2 linked regions of the Homo sapiens genome follow. The protein of the gene in region 2 purifies or fractionates together with the protein of the main gene of each other region. This does not show direct contact. Each region holds a gene or a part of one and is shown on either strand. Other genes may lie near its edges.

What was found. The genes of interacting proteins can lie anywhere in the genome.
Region 1: the proteins of SLC25A10 (region 2) and SCGB2A1 purify together in Homo sapiens (affinity purification with mass spectrometry; 2 studies listed by BioGRID and IntAct, with this or other methods). This does not show direct contact.

Annotation. Positions count from the first base shown.
Region 1 is NC_000011.10:62,211,620-62,214,544, reverse strand, and holds the end of SCGB2A1 (mammaglobin-B precursor), read right to left. Parts: intron 820-2,925; coding exon 775-819; 3' UTR 602-774; downstream 1-601. UniProt on the Homo sapiens protein: May bind androgens and other steroids, may also bind estramustine, a chemotherapeutic agent used for prostate cancer. May be under transcriptional regulation of steroid hormones.
Region 2 is NC_000017.11:81,715,212-81,718,479, reverse strand, and holds part of SLC25A10 (mitochondrial dicarboxylate carrier), read right to left. Parts: intron 3,003-3,268; coding exon 2,888-3,002; intron 2,788-2,887; coding exon 2,739-2,787; intron 2,472-2,738; coding exon 2,430-2,471; intron 1,669-2,429; coding exon 1,625-1,668; intron 1,479-1,624; coding exon 1,408-1,478; intron 1,082-1,407; coding exon 989-1,081; intron 724-988; coding exon of another isoform or gene 697-723; coding exon 619-696; intron 429-618; coding exon of another isoform or gene 312-428; exon of another isoform or gene 136-311; intron 1-135. UniProt on the Homo sapiens protein: Catalyzes the electroneutral exchange or flux of physiologically important metabolites such as dicarboxylates (malonate, malate, succinate), inorganic sulfur-containing anions, and phosphate, across mitochondrial inner membrane.

The sequences.
Region 1 (2,925 bases), on a different chromosome or scaffold from region 2:
GGCAGAGACTGGACTGAGAAAAGTTGCACAATTTAAGGTGTCGCTATGCTAGCAAACTCAGTCATCAGGGTAAGTAATATTTTCATGCAATATTTTAAAAGTTCAAAATTAATGCCAACATCCATGAACGACAAATAAAACTCAAAATTTAAAATCCAGACAGGATCCACCTTGCTTTGCAGGCCTCCCCTCCCTGGCTGGCTCTGGTCTGGGCCCTGCACACGTTGGGGAGGCCCAAAGACAACCCAGAGGAGCCTGGCATAACCAGCAGGGCTCAGCATGGATGGGACTGGGGTAAAATCAGGGCTTCTGAGCATGACTCCAAGAGTGTGAGGTCCCCAGAGAAAGTGGCTTAGGGAGGTAGTGGGATGTGGAGAGTGAAACACTCTTCAGAGAAAAATTAGCTAAGCAACAAGAGCTAATACTTTGTTCTGCAGAGAGAGAGAAGTCCAACTCTTGGGCTCGAGATGATGAGAAATAAAGTATTTCCCAGAAACCTCGGACCCTCACTCAACTCCTTCGAGGCTTGTCTCTGTCTGCAACCTACAGCCTGACTGTGCAGCCTGGAAAGCTTCTTTTTTTATAGAAGAACAAGAAAGAATTTTAGTGATTTGCAGTTAGTTTATTGAAATGGAAATGAATTTGAGGTTTCAACAGTTGTCTAGCAGTTTCCACATAAAAAGACAACACAAGAAAGAAAAGTGGTTTCTAGCAATCAACAGATGAGTTCTGGCCATAGTCTGTAGCCCTCTGAGCCAAACGCCTTGGGTAAAGTTAATTACTCTTCATATTACACCAAATGCTGTCGTACACTGTATGCTGGAAAACAAAAGCAGGTCACTTAGGTTTGCAAATTTCACTTATTAAATCAAATATTAAAACTTGTCTTCTTGTTTTCTTGCATTTGTCCACAAACAGCTAACTCTCAGGAGGATTTGCAGTGGAAGCAAAGCCAGCATCCCCTCTCCATTTATTCTGTTATCTAGGAGACACTTCATAATGCCAAACAGGGGCCAGGGTTGTAGGATCTCTTCCCTACCAGTGATCCATGTAATACTTTTTTTCTCCAAAAATTCTATCCTTTGAAATAACTTATCCAATAAATATGCTGCATATACTATTTGTTGAAGACCTGATCATTTGGACTGTTTCTGATACCACTTTTACAACACAGAATTATTAAAAAATCTCAGCTCAGATACAAGAATGTGATGGTTTTGAGTTGCTGCACAGGCATAAAAGGTAGAAATGTTGTAACAGTCTGAGACTCTTCACCATTACCTTTGAGGCCTATGAAATATTGGAGCTGGGCTGGGTGGGATGGCTCATGCCTGTAATCCCAGCACTTTGGGAAGCCAAGGAGGGCAGATTGCTTGACCCCAGGAGTTTAAACCAGCCTGGACAATATGACAAAATGCCATCTCTACAAAAAAAAAAATATATATATATATATGTGTATATATGTGTATATATGTATATATGTGTATATATGTGTATATATGTATATATGTGTGTATATATGTATATATGTGCATATATGTGTACATATATGCATGTATATGTGCACATATATGTGTACATATGTGTACATATGTGTGTACATATGTGTGTATATATGTGTGTGTGTATATATATGTATATATATGCCAGGTGTGTTAGTGTGCACCTGTAGTCGCAGCTACTCAGGAGGCTGAAGCGGGAGGATCACTTGAGCCCAGGAGATGGAGGCTGCAGTGAGCTGTGATTGTACCACTGCATTCCAGCCTGGGCAAAAGAGCAAGACTCTGTCTCAAAAACAAAAACAAAGACAAAAAAACGGAAACAAGAAACACTGGAGTTTTACAATATGAATGATTAATCTGAGGGGTTTTTTTGGTTTGTTTAGGATTTTTGTTTGTTTGTTTGTTTTTGAGATGGAGTCTTACTCTGTTGCCCAGGCTGGAGTGCGGTGGCACTATCTTGGCTCACTGCAATCTCTGCCTCCTGGCTTCAAGTAATTCTTCTGCCTCAGCCACCCAAGCAGCTGGAATTACAGGTGTGCGCCACCACGCCTAGCTAATTTTTGTATTTTTAGTAGAGACAGGGTTTCAGCATGTTGGCCAGGCTGGTCTTGAACTCCTGACCTCAAGTGATCTGCCCGCCTTGGCCTCCTAAAGTGCTGGGATTACAGGTATGAGGGATGCACCTGGCTAATCTGAGTTTTTAAAGAAAAAAATGATTCAACCATCCCAAATTGCAGTTAATATTTATTTTTATCCTTGAGCATTTGATATATCTTTACATTTTTTATTATGGAATGTTTTAAATAAAATTTTAGGGTATTAAATAAATTCTTAAAAAAAAAATGTAATCCCAGCACTTTGGGAGGCTGAAGCGGGCAGATCACCTGAGGTCAGGAGTTTGAGACCAGCCTGGCCAACATGGTGAAACCCCATCTCTACTTAAAATACAAAAATTAGCAGGCTGTGGTGTTGTGTGCCAGTAATTCCAGCTACTCCGAAGACTGAGGCAGGAGAATCACTTGAACTCAGGAGCCGGAGATTGTAGTGAGCCGAGATCGTGCCATTGCACTCCAGCCTGAGCAACAAGAGCTAAACTCCATCTCGAAAAAAACGAAAAACAAAAAACAAAACTCGTAACCAACACATCTTTATAAACAGACAGAAATACTCCTTGTTATAACCACTGACTTTTGTTTTAAACAATTCTAGCACTCGTGCTGTTTCATACCCATAATCTGCACTTCCCACTTCATGAGGCACTTAATTAAGTGGTGCATGACTTCCAGTCATGTATGCTAACAAATCTTGGTTGCTTGGACTTGCATTTTAAATTCTTTATTTTAGGCCGGGAGCAGTGGCTCACACCTGTAATCCCAGCACTTTGGGAGGCCGAGGCGGGCAGATCACCTGAGGTCAGGAGTTC
Region 2 (3,268 bases):
CAGTTTCACTCTTGTGGCCCAGGCTGGGGTGCAATGGTGTGATCTCGGCTCACTGCAACCTCCGCCTCCCAGGTTCAAGCGATTCTCCTGCCTCAGCCTCCCGAGTAGCTGGGATTACAGGCGCACGCCACCACACCCAGCCAATTTTTTGTATTTTTAGTAGAGAGGGGGTTTCACCATGTTGGCCAGGCTGGTCTTGAACTCCTGACCTCAGGTGATCTGCTTGCCTCGACCTCCCAAAGTGCTGGGATGATAGGCATGAGCCACCGCACCTGGCCCCTAATTTTTGTAATTTTGGTAGAGACAGGGTTTCAGTATGTTGCCCAGGCTGGTCTTGAACTCCTAGACTCAAGCAGTCTGCCTGCCTCAGGCTCCCAAAGTGCTGGGGTTACAGGCATGAGCCACTGCGCCGGGCCAAGAAGTCTTCTCTAAAAACAAAAACAAGGCAAAGGCATTCAAAGGCACAACCCTCTCCCAAGGCAAGTGCTGTGCAGAGACAGGCAACTAGAAGGGAGGGACACCCTTCCCCGGGTCCCCAGTGCGAGTGTCCACCCCCCGGAGAGGTGAGGGGACTCGCTGGGCTGTGCAGCCCAACTGCACAGGCAGGGCCCCACTCACCTGATACTCCCCCTTGGAGTTCATCAGGCGAGTCTTCAGCACATCCAGGGGCTGGCACAGGAACGTGGCACATCCACCCTGAGGAGGGGGCTCGTCACCAGCGGCCTGTCAGGTACGCCAGGCACCATCGCCGAATCCCACCCACGTGCCAGAACCTCCACCTGACTCCTAGGGCGGGCCAGGAACATGCTGGCGGGGGCACCAGGCTGACCCATGAGCTCCCAAAGCCCTGGCACCCCACTTATGAGCCCCAGGGGGCACTGCCAGATGCCCAAGGCCCCCGCCTCCCCCAGCCCTCGCCCCATCCTGGGTGCCCTCAGCGCCCAAGGCCGGCCCAGGGACGCCCACCCTAGCCATGCCGGCCACTTACTGCAATAAAGCTGGCGACAAAGTGAGTGAAGATGTTGTCAGAGAGGTACCCGGTGCTAAGGACCAGCTGCTTGGCCTGGTCGTAGCAGGACAGCTGCAGGGGCACAAGGGCGGTCAGGGCTGTAGGGGGGACCCCAGCTTGGGGAAAGCACACAGGGCCCCAGGCGACACCACCTGGCAATGGCCAAGCACCTGCTCCGTCTGTCCGTCCGTGAGGCCCAGACAGGGGAGGCACCTGCCCGAGGTCCTTCACAGGCTGCAGCCCTGACCCACCCGTGCCCCCCACCCTGCCCCACAAGGTCACAGCTGGTGGCTCCCCAGGAGGGTTTTGGCGCCCAGTGCCTTGTTCTATGGCCCCTCTGAAGATGGAGGTCAGTGGTCACAGGCACTGCCCACACCCACCCCACGCAGGAGGCCTACCTGGCCCACAGTGACTAAGGCCCCTCGGCTGGATGCCATGGTTGCACCCGAGAACAGTCTCCTGAGACCCTCTGCACAAGGAAGGGGTGAGGCAAGGGGTGAGGCAAGGGGTGAGGCCAGGCACCTGGCCCAAATCCCTCAGCGCCCAGTCTTCTACAGCGCTGCCCACCCTGCCTGCCCCCCAGAACCCTGCCTGTGCACAGCACCTGCCCCTCACCTTCACGAGCTACGCGGTACAGGCCATCCAGCGCATGGGCGTAGCTGCCGGGGACACAGAATGACCACATGAGACTCCCCCTGACCACCGGCTCCCACAGAGGGTCCTCCCAGGCCCCGAGGCAGGCCGGGGGTTCTCGAGGAAGCAGAGGCCTCATGGGCCTGAAGATCTCTCCCTGGGAACATGAAGCTGGTCCTGACGTCCCACAGCCACCTCGCCCGCCCCGCCCGGCCCTCAGGGAGGAGGTTCCATCGTTTCCAACAGAGTCCCTGGCTGGGCACCGCTCCTAGCATGCAGGCCTCCTGCCCGCCAGCCCCCGGGGTCCTGGGGGAACACAGTCTGTGTGCACAGCTAGAAGCCAGAACTCCCCAGGGGTCCTTGGAAGGGGCGGGGGAAGTGGCTCACACTGCAGTTGGAGCGGACCCCGGGCCCTGGAAAGACCCCAGGCCGTGGCAGGAGGGCACAGCTGCCCTGAGCTGGGCAGGGAGGCAGCGCCTCCTTCGGGCGTTTCTGTTGCATGCGCTCTCTCCATGCCTGGGGCGTTCGCCTCCGCACTCACCACCCTGGGGTGCAAACAGGCCCAGCCCCCAATCCAACAAGGCTCTCCCCACAGGAAGAACCCAAAGGTCCTGGGGGCGCAGAGTGACACCCCCGAGTCCAGAACAGCCGTCAGGACCCTCCATGGACCGTGCAGGCACCTCGGCCTGCTGGAGCCTCAGCTGGGTCACGGCAGAGCAGCCAGGGGTCCGCTCCCGCCCGAGCCTCCTGCACCTCAACCACCCCGAGAAGGCCGCCCATGACTCACTTGCGCCGCTGACCCTGGGGCAGCTTCACGTCGTTCTGCATCCTGAAACAGAAGCAGGTGGCGGGAGGGGCGGGCGGGCCGAGGGGCATGGGCAGCCCTGGCAGCACAGGGGAGCTCACGCTGGTCAGCGGGGCCCACAGGACAGGGCACGCCGGGGCTCAGGGACACCCACCCTCCTATGCCCAGGACACCAGGGTCTCAGTGGCTTATTCCAGGCTGACCCCACCCTGCAAGCAGCCCTGGCAGGCCCTGGCATGTCTGGGGACAAGAAAGCCCCTGGCCTTGCAGGTGGGGTGGGGGAACACCAACCTGACGTTGACCAAGTCTGCGGGCGTCCCCACGAAGCCTCCAGCTAAACCTGCGGTGACACAAACCCCAGAGATGAGCCGTGCTGACACACGGCGTCCTCGGCCGACCTGACCACCCCGCGCCCCTCCCCCTCCCGCCCGGCAGCTCACCGCTGACGGAGCCCAGCAACACCTTCTCGTGGAAGGGGAGAGGCCCCTGGCTGCCCTTGGCCACACGGTCCCGCACAGTCTCGTAGATGGCGAACCGAGTCAGGGAGTAGGTCATCTGGGGGAGAAGGGCCTGGCTTGGAGGGACGGGCACGCCCCACACCCCTCAGCCTCGCCACCCGGCCCAGCCAGGGATCCCCCTCAGCCCGAGGGGCCACAGGGACCCTGAGGGGCCTTCCCAAGGCCACTGTGCCAGCATGCGGCTGAGCCAGTTCACAAATCTAGAGCTGCACCCTGCTTTCTCACTCCCTGGGCCTCAGCTTCCCCACCAGTAAGTGGCGGTCTCAGGCCCAGCCCTGCAAACTGGGTGGGTGCCCATGGGAG